Linked DNA regions of Homo sapiens. The protein of the gene in region 1 interacts with the protein of each later gene in a biochemical or structural test. Each region holds a gene or a part of one and is shown on either strand. Other genes may lie near its edges. The genes, in order: PRM1 and SRPK1.

Region 1 (5,163 bases):
ATACAAAGCATCCATTTGCCATTCACTTATTCATTCAACAAATATTTCAGTTCCTTTTAGTTCAGGTTATTCTCAGTATTAGGATTGTCACACTGAACAAAAGAAAGTCTCACTGAACTTCCATCCCACTTGGGGAGACAAATTATAAACACAGTATCAGTGAGTGGCAAGTACTGTATTAGAGTAACAGCCAGCTGCTGTGACAAACCCAAAATTTCAGATGACCACGGAAGGCTTCAAGATCCCAGACGAGGCCAAATGTCCCCACCGCCTAGCTCCAGGGCATCCTCTTCCCAGAACTCAGAACTAATCTCTGTGGCTGGGCAAAGTGGCTCATGCCTGTAACCCCAGCAAGTGATTCTCCTGCCTCAGCCTCCTGAGTAGATGGGATTACAGGCAAGAGCCACCATCCCAGCTAATTTTTGTCTTTTTAGTAGAGACAGGGTAACTCACATGGTCTCAGAGGAACCTGATGAGATGTCGAAGATTGATAGTCACCCTGGACTGGGTGTGGTGGCTCACGCCTGTAATCCTAGCACTTTGGTAGGCTGAGGTGGGTGGATCACTTGAGGTCAAGAGTTTGAGACCAGCCTGGCCAAAATGGTGAAACCCCGTCTCTACTAAAAATACAAAAATTAGCCACGCGTGGTGACATATGCCTATAATCCCAGCTACTCAGGAGGCTGAGGCAGGAGAATCGCTTGAACCTGGGAGGCAGAGGTTGCAGTGAGCCAAGATGGTGTCATTGCACTCCAGCCTGGGCAACAATAGCAAAACTCCATCTAAAAAACAAACAAGCAAACAAAAAAACCAACCAAACAAAAAAAAGTAAGTGTTAGAGGATTGGGGGTAACAATTTTACCTCAATCTAGATCTGAATCAATTAATGAAAAGTTACTGCTAACCTACTATGTGCTACTGTATCCCTCTTAGTGACAATAGACTTTAGCTTCAAATTCATGGTTTCCCCATCTTGCTGGGGTCAGGGGTGGGCTCCATCCCCTTCGGGGAAGAGAGTACTAACTGTCTACCTGGTATCCATCAGCCCCTTCTCCTTTCTAGGAGCCCTGCTTTACCCCAGGGGGCAGTGTGCTTTTGCAGGGAGGCCAGTGATCAGAAGGGGAAGTTGCTGGACAGGGCATCTGGGAAAGCTCTTTATACCATGAGGATTCCATTGAGGCTGCTGTGAGCTATGATTGCGCCACTGCACTCCGGCCTGGGCAAAAGAGCTAGACCTTGTCTCTAAAAAAGAGACAAGAACTCCCTTTGCCACCCCTCCTCTTTCTCCTTCCTGCTTGCACGGTGGATATGGGTGGGACTCCAGCAGGGCCAAGTTTAGCCCTTAGTGTGCCTTTGTTCAAATTTGGAAGAGACTTCTGCTGTGAGCAGGCAAATTAGGAAAAAGACAGCTCCGATGGGCTGAAACATTCCCTGTGAGTACAGGGCCTGGAGTGGCAAGTAGACCACAGGCTGGATTTCAGTCCCTACTCAATCCCTTTGGCAGGGAGCTTGGAGCAGGACACAAACTGCACAACCATCCCTGGCAGCCCTGATCTTGGACTATGAGGCAACTTTGTGGATGGAAAGCACTTGCTGAAGGCAGAGCTAAAAGACAAAAGCCTGGACCCTTGAAAAGGATGGAGCCTCACACCAGCCCTGGCTGACCTCCCTGGGTTTTCTTTTGTTCTTTTTAAAAAAATTTAATAATCTATTTTGAAATAATTTCAAAATTTCAGAAAACTTGCAAGAACCCCTGACAAACACCTCCCCTTTACACAGATTGGCCAATTGTTTTTTCAAAAAAATCTTTTTTATTTTTTTTTTATTTTTGTAGAGATGGGCTCTATGTTGCCGAGGCTGGTCTCGAACTCCTGGGCTCAGCCGATCTTTCCAAAGAGCTGGATTACAGGTGTGAGCCACCGCGCCTGGCATGGCCAGTTGTGAACGTTCTGTCACATCTGTTCAGCTCCCCGCCCCCATCTCTGTCTCCTCTCTCTCCCTTCTTCTCCCTCTTTCTCTATGGGTAAATCCTTGAGAGTAGTTGGCAAACATATGTCATCACCCCTAAATCCTCCAGCATGTGTATCCCCCAAACAGGGACAATCTAATGACCCCCGAAATCACCTCTGACTCCTTAAGAAAAACATAAAACTTCCACCCAACTCACTCATTTCGGTTTTCTGTTTAAGTAGCCAAACCAATTCTAACTGCTCCCCTCTTTACCCTTAAAATCCATGGGGCTGTGGAAAAGACCACACCATGACCAGTGCCCTGCACCATGCTCTGCTCCAATCCCTCACACCTGTTAGCACCTTTTGGCCTCACAGCTTTTCGTGTTTGCAATTGAGCTGAAAGTCAGGTAACATAAAATACATCATTTTAAAGTGTGTAATTCAAGGCCAGGTGTGGTGGCTCATGCCTGTAATCCCAGCACTTTGGGAGGCTGAGGCGGGCAGATCACTTGAGGTCAGGAGTTCGAGACCAGCCTGACCAACAAGGTGAAACCCCATCTCTACTAAAAATACAAAAATTGGCCAGGTGTGGTGGCGGGCGTCTGTAATCCCAGCTACTTGGGAGGCTGAGGCAGGAGAATCGCTTGAAGCAGGAGGCGGAGTTTGCAGTGAGCCAAGATTGCGCCGCTGCACTCCAGCCTGAGCGACAGAGCGACACCCTGTCATTCGTTCATTCAAAATTAAATAAATAAATAAAGTGTGTAATTCAGTGGCATTTAGTACAGTTACAATGTTGTGTAACCACCGCCTCTATCAAGTTCCAAAGCATCAGCCCACAAGGAAGCCCCCCACCCATGGCACAGCTGCTCCCTGCTCCACCCGCCCTGGTCACCCCGATCACTTTCTGTCTCCACGGATCCCCTGCTGCCTGGCCCTGCATAGAAACAGAACTGCACATCCTGCACCGCCTCAGAACAGTTGCAGGAGCAGCTCTTTCTTCCCAGGTGCTCCTCCCTCCTCTTACTATAGCATCCATTTAGGGTTCACTTCGCCAGCACCCCTTTGGGGCTCTCCCTAGAGCCTCACCTGAGGTCAAGTTCTCCCAGCACATATCCTCAGAAACCCGAGGTTTCCATTATCAGCATTTGTCACTATTACAATTATTCTTCAGGGCTGTTTCATTCATGCTTTCTGTAGTTAGATTATAAAGTCTATTAGGGGCAGGGTGTGGTGGCTCATATCTGTAATCCCAGTGCTTTGGGAGGCAGAGGCAGGAGATTTGCTCAAGGTCAGGAGTTTGAGACCAGCCTGGGCAACATAGGGAAAGCCCGTCTCTACAAATAATAATAATGGCCAGGCACGGTGGCTCATGCCTGTAATTCCAGCACTTTGGGAGGCTGAGACGGGCAGATCACTTGAGGTCAGGAGTTCGAGACCAAGCCTGGCCAACATGGCGAAACCCCATCTCTACTAAAAATACAAAAATTAGTTGAGTGTGGTGGTGCATGTCTGTAGTCCCAACTACTCGGGAGGCTGCGGCCAGAGGTTTGCTTGAACCCAGGAGGCAGAGGTTGCAGTGAGCCAAGATTGTGCTACTGCACTCCAGCCTGGGTGACAGAATGAGACTCTGTCTCAAAAAAATAAACAAAATACATAAGTAATTAAAAAAATAAAATAATAATAATAATACTTCTTAACAAGGGCATGTCTGTCTTGTTTATCACTATATACCAGGGCCTAGGCCAAAATCCGGCATGGAACAGGCCAAAATATTAACAGTAATATTTTGTTAATTGAATAACTAGATGATTGCTCCCACGGAGGAGTCATCTTGTATCGCCCCAGCTGTGACATAGGCAGCCCCTACACTCGGGGGCCTGCCCGCCTCTCAAATGCCCATATATGGACATGATGCAGGCCACCTGGCCATGGTTTGTGAGGTCCCAGCCCCTTTGCCCTCACAATGACCAACGGCCCCCTGGCATCTATAACAGGCCGCAGAGCTGGCCCCTGACTCACAGCCCACAGAGTTCCACCTGCTCACAGGTTGGCTGGCTCAGCCAAGGTGGTGCCCTGCTCTGAGCATTCAGGCCAAGCCCATCCTGCACCATGGCCAGGTACAGATGCTGTCGCAGCCAGAGCCGGAGCAGATATTACCGCCAGAGACAAAGAAGTCGCAGACGAAGGAGGCGGAGCTGCCAGACACGGAGGAGAGCCATGAGTAAGTGGGCCCAGCTGAGGGTGGGCTGGGGCTGAGGCTGGGAGCTCTCAGGGCCCAGCCTTCCTCTCACCACTTTTCTTGGTCTCACCAGGGTGCTGCCGCCCCAGGTACAGACCGCGATGTAGAAGACACTAATTGCACAAAATAGCACATCCACCAAACTCCTGCCTGAGAATGTTACCAGACTTCAAGATCCTCTTGCCACATCTTGAAAATGCCACCATCCAATAAAAATCAGGAGCCTGCTAAGGAACAATGCCGCCTGTCAATAAATGTTGAAAAGTCATCCCACTCTTCTCTCCTTGTTCTTGAGAGGGGAGGCTCAGTGGGGAGGAGGGCTCGGGGATGAGCAGAGGGGGAGAGGGCCTGGGCATGCAACGGGAGAAAGATGTCGGTGGGGGGGACATGAAAGACAGTTGTCACGCTGGGTTTTGTTCCAAACTTTTTTTTTTTTTTGAGACAGAGTCTCGCTCCGTCGCCCAGGATGGAGTGCAGTGGCGCGATCTTGGCTCACTGCAAGCTCCGCCTCCCAGGTTCACTCCATTCTCCTGCCTCAGCCTCCCGAGTAGCTGGGACTACAGGTGCCCGCCACCACACCTGGCTAATTTTTTGTATTTTTAGTAGAGACGGGGTTTCACTGTGTTAGCCAGGATGGTCTCGATCTCCTGACCTCATGATTCACCTGCCTCGGCCTCCCAAAGTGCTGGGATTACAGGCATGAGCCACTGCACCTGGCCATTGTTCCAAACTCTTAGTAGTACCAACAAGTCACAACCCAAACCTGCCTCCCTAAGATACAACAAGAACCAGTCTCCCCAAGTCACAACCAGAACCTGCCTCCTAAACCCTCTTAACAGATCCCTACCCAGTGGGGTGCTCTATCCAGGTCTCTCGAGTTTGAGGACCCACTGTGTACATTTCCCCACTCTGCTTGGTGACCTCATCTTGGCAGCTTGAAATGGACCATGGAGTATTTACAGAAATCAGCAA
Region 2 (7,289 bases), on another chromosome or scaffold:
CTCGCTCTGTCGCCCAGGCTGGAGTGCAGTTGGCGCGATCTCGGCTCACTGCAAGCTCTGCCTCCCGGGTTCATGCCATTCTCCTGCCTCAGCCTCCCGAGTAGCTGGGACTACAGGCGCCCGCCACCATACCCGGCTAATTTTTTGTATTTTTTTTTTTTTTTAGTAGACACAGGGTTTCACCGTGTTAGCCAGGATGGTCTCGATCTCCTGACCTTGTGATCCGTCTGCCTCAGCCTCCCAAAGTGCTGGGATTACAGGGGTGAGCCACCGCGCCTTGCCGTTTTTTGTTTTTTGTTTGTTTGTTTGTTTTTTGAGACAGAGTCTGGCTCTGTCATCCAGGCTGGAGTGCAGTGGCACAATCTCAGCTCACTGCAACCTCCACCTCCTGGGTTCAAGCGATTCTCCTGCCTCAGCCTCCCGAGTAGCTGGGACTACAGGCATGCACCATGACACTGGCCAATTTTTGTATTTTTAGTAGAGACTGGGTTTTACCATGTTGGCCAGTCTGGTTCTCAAACTCCTGACCTCAGGTGATCCACCCACCTCGGCCTCCCAAAGTGCTGGGATTACACGCGTGAGCCACCATGCCCAGCCTTAATTTTTGTATTTTTAATAGAGACAGGTTTCACTATGTTGGCCAGGCTGGTCTCGAACTCCTGACCTCAAATGATCCGCCCTCCTTGGCCTCCCAAAGTGCTGGGATTACAGGCATGAGCCACCGTGCCTGGGCTGTTTTGTTTTGTTTTTATTTAGAGAAAATCCCGTTTGCTTACTTGCTTTTTTTTTTTTGCTAAATAAACAGAATTATTCTGTCTCCTAAAAAACACCTGAGACTGTAATTGTAAATAGATATATATGTTTAGATAAACCTATTGAATTATTGAGAGACAAGAATATCATGATATACAACCTTTTTATTGTTTTTGGATGAGACTGTTGTAGGCTCAATCTAAATCATTAATCTTACTCACTTTTTTTAATAACATGAATTCAGTAATACTATGTGGCTGATTTGACTATTAAGATTTTCTTCTGTTGAATTGATTGTATAAAAGAAACTTTTTATTGATAAAAGGTATATAGATGTTGAAAAATGTGATGTTAAAAATGCCTTTTCTTACCATTGTTTCTCATCCTGGTTTTTCTGATTGTATTTCCCCTGTTTCTTCCAGGAGGTTATCATCTTGTGAAAATTGGAGATCTATTCAATGGGAGATACCATGTGATCCGAAAGTTAGGCTGGGGACACTTTTCAACAGTATGGTTATCATGGGATATTCAGTAAGTTTTAGTGGTTCTGTAAAAGAATTAGTTAGATGATGTCTAAATGTGTTTGTCTGAGTTTCCACTGCTGATCCAGGCTTCAATCTATCTCTAGCCTGATTCATTTATCAGAATTTTGTTGTTGGCAATAGTCTCTGTATTCTTGGAGAAACCACTTTTCTTTCGTGAAGAATCAGTATTATATATCTCCCTTTCTACTATAGAGACAGGAGTGATTAAATTAATGCTGGTAAAGCTTTTGTCGTTTGATTTTTTTGTGATTTTTATCATTTTCTTTTCACCGAAGTATTTCTTCTGGCTGCCTATGGGAAAATATTACAGCTTTTAACCTTTTAGTTTTTGCCTATATACAGATATATACACAGAACACTTGGAATTTGGTAATATCTTTCCCCTTATTTATCCTCATTTTGCAGTTTTGCTTGTAACTCAGGGAGATATTCAAAAGAAGGATTTTAACTCAGAGAAAATGTTCAACAACTGAGATTATCTGAGAACAGATTTTTTATTCTTCCTATAAATGAAATCTGGCCAGTTAGTGTCATTAACAAGTATAAATGTTCCCATAGAAGTAGCTTGTTTGGGCTACAGGGAAACGTGAAATCAATATTTGTCCTTTTTAACCATCTTATAGCTAAATCTTAGCTTCCTAAAGTAAGGGTAGGCTATGTAGTCTTAATTGCCTGTGTTTGTTTCTTAGGGGGAAGAAATTTGTGGCAATGAAAGTAGTTAAAAGTGCTGAACATTACACTGAAACAGCACTAGATGAAATCCGGTTGCTGAAGTCAGTGAGTATTAGATTATATGTATGAATGTGAAGAATTATAAATAAATCAAGTTTCATTGAATAAAAACACACCAAGTGGAGGCTCTTTAGCATGGATAATTTTCTCTATAAAGTTCTAGTAACCTTAAAGAGGTAAAGGAAGACAACAATATTTACACATACCATGCATGTAGTAGGGAACTGGTGGCAAATGCTATGATGAGAATTCTTCTTACACGCATGAACCAAAAAAAAACCTTTCAAATGAATAAAAATATTCACTGAGCATGTTTTACAGGCCAGGTAGCTACTGTCATAATGTTTTTTTTTCCTACTATGGTTAAAAGGAAAGTTGTGTAAATAAATGTATAGCATCTTTTTTGTTGTTTTTCAAATATGTTATAGAATACATAATATAAAAATACTGTATTTACTGATTCCATTTATACCTGGAAACTGAGATAAATTCTATCAAAAATGTATTTTTAGTTCTGTTTTAAATTAGGAATATGCCAGTGTGGTAGAAGGAACTTAAATTCAGAATTAGAAAACCTGGGTTTAGGTCGCCTTTACCCCGGTATGTCCTCCATGTTACCATTTTTTTCTTTCTGAGTCTCAGATTTTTTATTCATAAAGTGAGAATGTTGCACCAGGAGATTTCTATGGCAGTAGTTTTCTTTTTTATTTTCAACTCCTGGCCTCAAGTGATCTGCCTTAGCCTCCAGAGTAGCTGGGGTTACAGGCACAAGCCACTGCATCTGGCTTAAGACAGTACTTTTCAGAATGTCCGTTTGTGACAAGATAAGGAGCCTTGTACCTACCCAAAAGTAAATCAACATACTGTTTTCTTCATTGAGAAAGTTTTTCCATGAAAAAAAAAATGTCCGCTGAAAAAAACAGTGTGGTTAGTGCTGTAGTTGATTTGCATCCTGCAAAATCTTCTTAGTTCCTCATAGCCTGGTAATCATCAGTTAATTTGGAGGCCACACTTTGATTGATATCAGGGAGCAAAATAGTTTAATTAGAAAAATAGTTCCTGTTGGTTGTATTTCCTCTTATGAATTGACTATTTAAGATTTTTCTCCATTAAAGCTATTGAAATTTTAGTATATTTTAAAAATAGATTTATGTGAGCTCTTTCTTGTAGTTAATTTGCTGTAAGTATTCTTCCCCTACCATCTGGTTTATTTCCATGCTTTACCTTGTGCTAAACACTGTCTCTTCCCCACTACAGGTTCGCAATTCAGACCCTAATGATCCAAATAGAGAAATGGTTGTTCAACTACTAGATGACTTTAAAATATCAGGAGTTAATGGAACACGTATCCTTTTAAAAACCTATTTGAGAATAAATCATCCCAATCCCAAAGAAAGGAACTAGATTTGTTGTGTAGATGGCCTTGGTGTCTTTTCTAAGGCAAACTATAATAAAATTACCTCTTTTATTGTACACTTCTGAACACACATCTGAATTTTGTCTAATTTTGTGTGGTGTGATTTTTCAGAATATTGCTTTAAGCTTCTTGTCCTCTTTTCAGGCAAATTAAAGCGAAATCAAAGGAAACTTTTAGAAAATGCGTTGTATCACTAAGTAAAGAGTCTATGATTTTTGTCAGTTAGCACAGAAACTTTAAGGGAAGTAATTTCTTATGAAAAATACTGAGTAGGCCGGGCACGGTGGCTCAAGCCTGTAATCCCAGCACTTTGGGAGGCCGAGGCAGGTGGATCACCTGAGGTCAGGAGTTCAAGACCCACCTGGCGAACATGGTGAAACTCTGTTTCTACCAAAATACAAAAATTAGCTGGGCATGGTGGCAGGCTCCTGTAATCCCAGCTACTGGAGAGGCTGAGGCTGGAGAATCACTTGAACTGGGGAGGCAGAGGTTGCAGTGAGCCGAGATTGAGCCCACTGCACTCCAGCGTGGGGGACAGAGCCAGACTCTGTCTAAAAAAAAAAAAAAAAGATACTGTCTAAAAGAAAGAGAAAAAGAGAGAAAGAAAAAGAAAGGAAGAAAGAAACTGGATGAACAATTTAAGGTATGATTGTATTTATTATACTAAGCCTCAACTTTGAAGAGGCTGTGAATGTAGTTTATGTTTAGAGTCTAAAAGGGTGTAATTGTTCACATTCTATTATAATGAAAAACTGACTTGTTTTATGTTTTTATCTGGATGTTTTAGAACTGTAGAATTGAAAGGAACCATAGCTGATTTTCTTCACAGGTATCAAAGTGACGTGCGGTGAGCTAATGGAAAGGTTATTGCAACAGCTGTGCTTATAAAGGTCAATCAGATTTTTCAGTAAAAGATGAAGTCGAATCTTACTTAGATTGGATAAATCTAAAATCACCTGTTTATAAGCTGTTTTTAAAATGTATAAAGACATTTCATACATTATTTTACTTTTCATGCATGTTTAGCTTCCTTTAATGCACATTCCTAATTGCTGTTGATCTTTTTGTATTTAAAGGAGACAGGACTACATATGACTAGTTTCATGTAGACTATGGGAAGAGATTTGAACAGAGAAGCAGGAAGGAAGGGATGGGAAAGGAGAGAGAACAGCTGATAATGTGGAAAGACTATTGTTCTAAAGTCAATTCTGAGTCATTTCTTAGAAAAATACAAATCACAGATTACCCAGATGTCTAAGGAAAACTGCTGCAACCATCTTAAAACAGTATCTTGTGCTTATTGTGGTCACTTTGTAGATGGCTCTCTCTCTCTCTCTCTCTCTCTCTCTCTCTGTGTGTGTGTGTGTGTGTGTGTGTGTGTGTGTGTGTGTTCAAAGAATTAAGAATTCTAAACCAAGTAATTTTTTAAAAACCTACACAGGGTGTCGTGATGGCCATATCTGTTTTTTCTATTATTTAATCTTGTAATGTTTGTCATTGTGCCAGATTTCTTTACTAATTTGCAAAAGTTCCAAGTAAAACTATAGAAATACTCTCAAATCTCCCCAGTAATGCTGAGTACCTTTATTTGACCCTAACTAAGCAAAGAAGGCTTTTTAACTATTGAAATATCTTAGTAGGTTTGAATTTCAAGTTCCAAGATATTTTTCTTTTTCTTTTTTGGAGTTCAATGGCATAATCTCGGCTCACTGTAACCTCTGCCTCCTGGGTTCAAGTGATTCTCCTGCCTCAGCCTCCCGAGTAGCTGGGATTACAGGTGGATGCCACCACACCCAGCTAATTTTGTATTTTTAGTAGAGATGGGGTTTCACCATGTTGGCCAGGCTGGTCTCAAACCCCTGACCTCAGGTGATCTGCCCGCCTCGGCCTCCCAAAGTGCTGGGATTACAGGTGTGAGCCACCGTGCCCGGCCCCCAAGATATTTTTCAAACATTGCTAGGTGGTTTCTCTGTAGCTTCTGTCCATTGATTCCCTATTTTATTCTTTTCTCCATTTGTTCTTAGCCATTTTTTCCTGTCTTTCTTCATCCTTATCTCCCAGCTGTCTTTGCTCCTGCATTATTTACTACTGTTAGAGATTGAAAGGATATAACTCAAAACACTATGTTAAGGGTTAGTAATGGCTCATGTCACTCTCCTGCCTCTACCCGTTTTCCCAACATAACATACCCACACAGAGCAGTACATCCACATTCGTGTGTATGTTTGTTCAGGCGTTTTTTTCTCTGGACCACTATCGTTTCTCATATTAAAATATAAAGGGCCCTAAACTAGAAAGTTAGTTCTTACAGAATTCCATATAAACTGGCTCACTCTACTTGCCTGGAGGGTGAGGGGAAAAGAATGATTAAGAAGGAGGACAGTTGGTTTCTCTATATAATGTTGACATTAGCCAGTCATTATTGTCTGCTTATATGACCTCCTATGTCTTTAGGATACTTTTTTTTTCATGCTGTATTCTGTCTGTTTTGCTAGCTCCTCTTATTCATAATGTGCCCTAAATGTGCTTACTCAATAACATAAGCCTTTTATTTTCAGCCTTTTGTTATTTTCTTTACACTGTCTCCCCATTAGATTTTTTTAAAAATATAACCTTGTGGGCCGGGTGCAGTGGCTCACACCTGTAATCTCAGCACTTTGGGAGGCCGAGGTGGGCGGATCACGAGGTCAGGAGACCGAGACCATCTTGGCTAACACGGTGAAACCTCATCTCTACTAAAAATACAAAAAAAAGCTGGGCGTGGTGGCAGGCGCCTGTAGTCCCAGCTACTCAGAAGGCTGAGGCAGGAGAATGGCGTGAACCTGGGAGGAGGAGATTGCAGTGAGCCAAGATAGCGCCAACTGCACTCCAGCCTGGGCGACAGAGCAAGACTCCGCCTCAAAAAAAAAAAAAATAACCTTGTGATTTCAATTACTAGTGCTTCTGATTGCTACTCATTAGCTTTCTTTCACTCAAATTATTTGGCTCTTCCTTTTTGCCACTTGATTATGATGTTCTGTCAAGTTTTTTTTTAAGCTACTATATGTTTGGTCATTTTAATATCACTGCTTACAAATTAAAACATTTTCAAATTGTAATACTTCTCTCAACAAATAAAAATTAAGCAGATGGAAGCTAGAAACATAAGAGAATAGCTTTACAATCCTATTTTATGTTTAGTCTTTTTAAGTAATCTGCATTTTAAATAATCTTGTTTTGATAATTTTTTTTATTTAATTGCTTTTTTATTTTTATTTATTTTGAGACAGAGTTTCGTTCTTGTTGGCCAGGCTGGAGTGCAATGGCGCAATCTCGGCTCACTGCAACCTCCGCCTCCCAGGTTCAAGCGATTCTCCTTCCTCACCCTCCCGAGTAGCTGAGATTACAGATGCACACCACCACGCCCAGCTAGTTTTTGTATTTTTAGCAGAGACGGGGTTTTGCCATGTTGGCGATCCACCTGCCACAGCCTCCCAAAGTGCTGGGATTGAAGGCATGAGCCACCATGCCCAGCCTATTTAATTGCTTGTTTAAAAAAATTTCCTGGCCAGGTGCAGTGGCTCACGCCTATAATCCCAGCACTTTGGGAGGCCAAAGCGGGCGGATCACGAGGTCAGGAGTTCAAGACCAGACTGGCCAACATGGCGAAACCCCATCTCTACTAAAAATACAAAAATTAGCGAGGCGTGGTGGCACGTGCCTGTAATCCCAGCTACTTGGGAGGCTGAGGTAGGAGAATGGTTTGAACCTGGGAGGCGGAGGTTGCAGTGACCTGAGATCATGCCACTGCACTCCAGCCTGGGTGACAGAGCAAGACTCCATCTCGGGTGGGGAAATTTTTT

The links.
Region 2: of the proteins of PRM1 (region 1) and SRPK1, one has a biochemical effect on the other in vitro, tested with the Homo sapiens proteins (one study listed by BioGRID).

The regions. Positions count from the first base shown.
Region 1 is NC_000016.10:11,280,137-11,285,299, reverse strand, and holds PRM1 (sperm protamine P1), read left to right. Parts: upstream 1-3,969; 5' UTR 3,970-4,061; coding exon 4,062-4,173; intron 4,174-4,264; coding exon 4,265-4,308; 3' UTR 4,309-4,459; downstream 4,460-5,163. UniProt on the Homo sapiens protein: Protamines substitute for histones in the chromatin of sperm during the haploid phase of spermatogenesis. They compact sperm DNA into a highly condensed, stable and inactive complex.
Region 2 is NC_000006.12:35,882,810-35,890,098, reverse strand, and holds part of SRPK1 (SRSF protein kinase 1), read left to right. Parts: intron 1-1,175; coding exon 1,176-1,284; intron 1,285-1,987; coding exon 1,988-2,075; intron 2,076-3,287; coding exon 3,288-3,375; intron 3,376-7,289. UniProt on the Homo sapiens protein: Serine/arginine-rich protein-specific kinase which specifically phosphorylates its substrates at serine residues located in regions rich in arginine/serine dipeptides, known as RS domains and is involved in the phosphorylation of SR splicing factors and the regulation of splicing.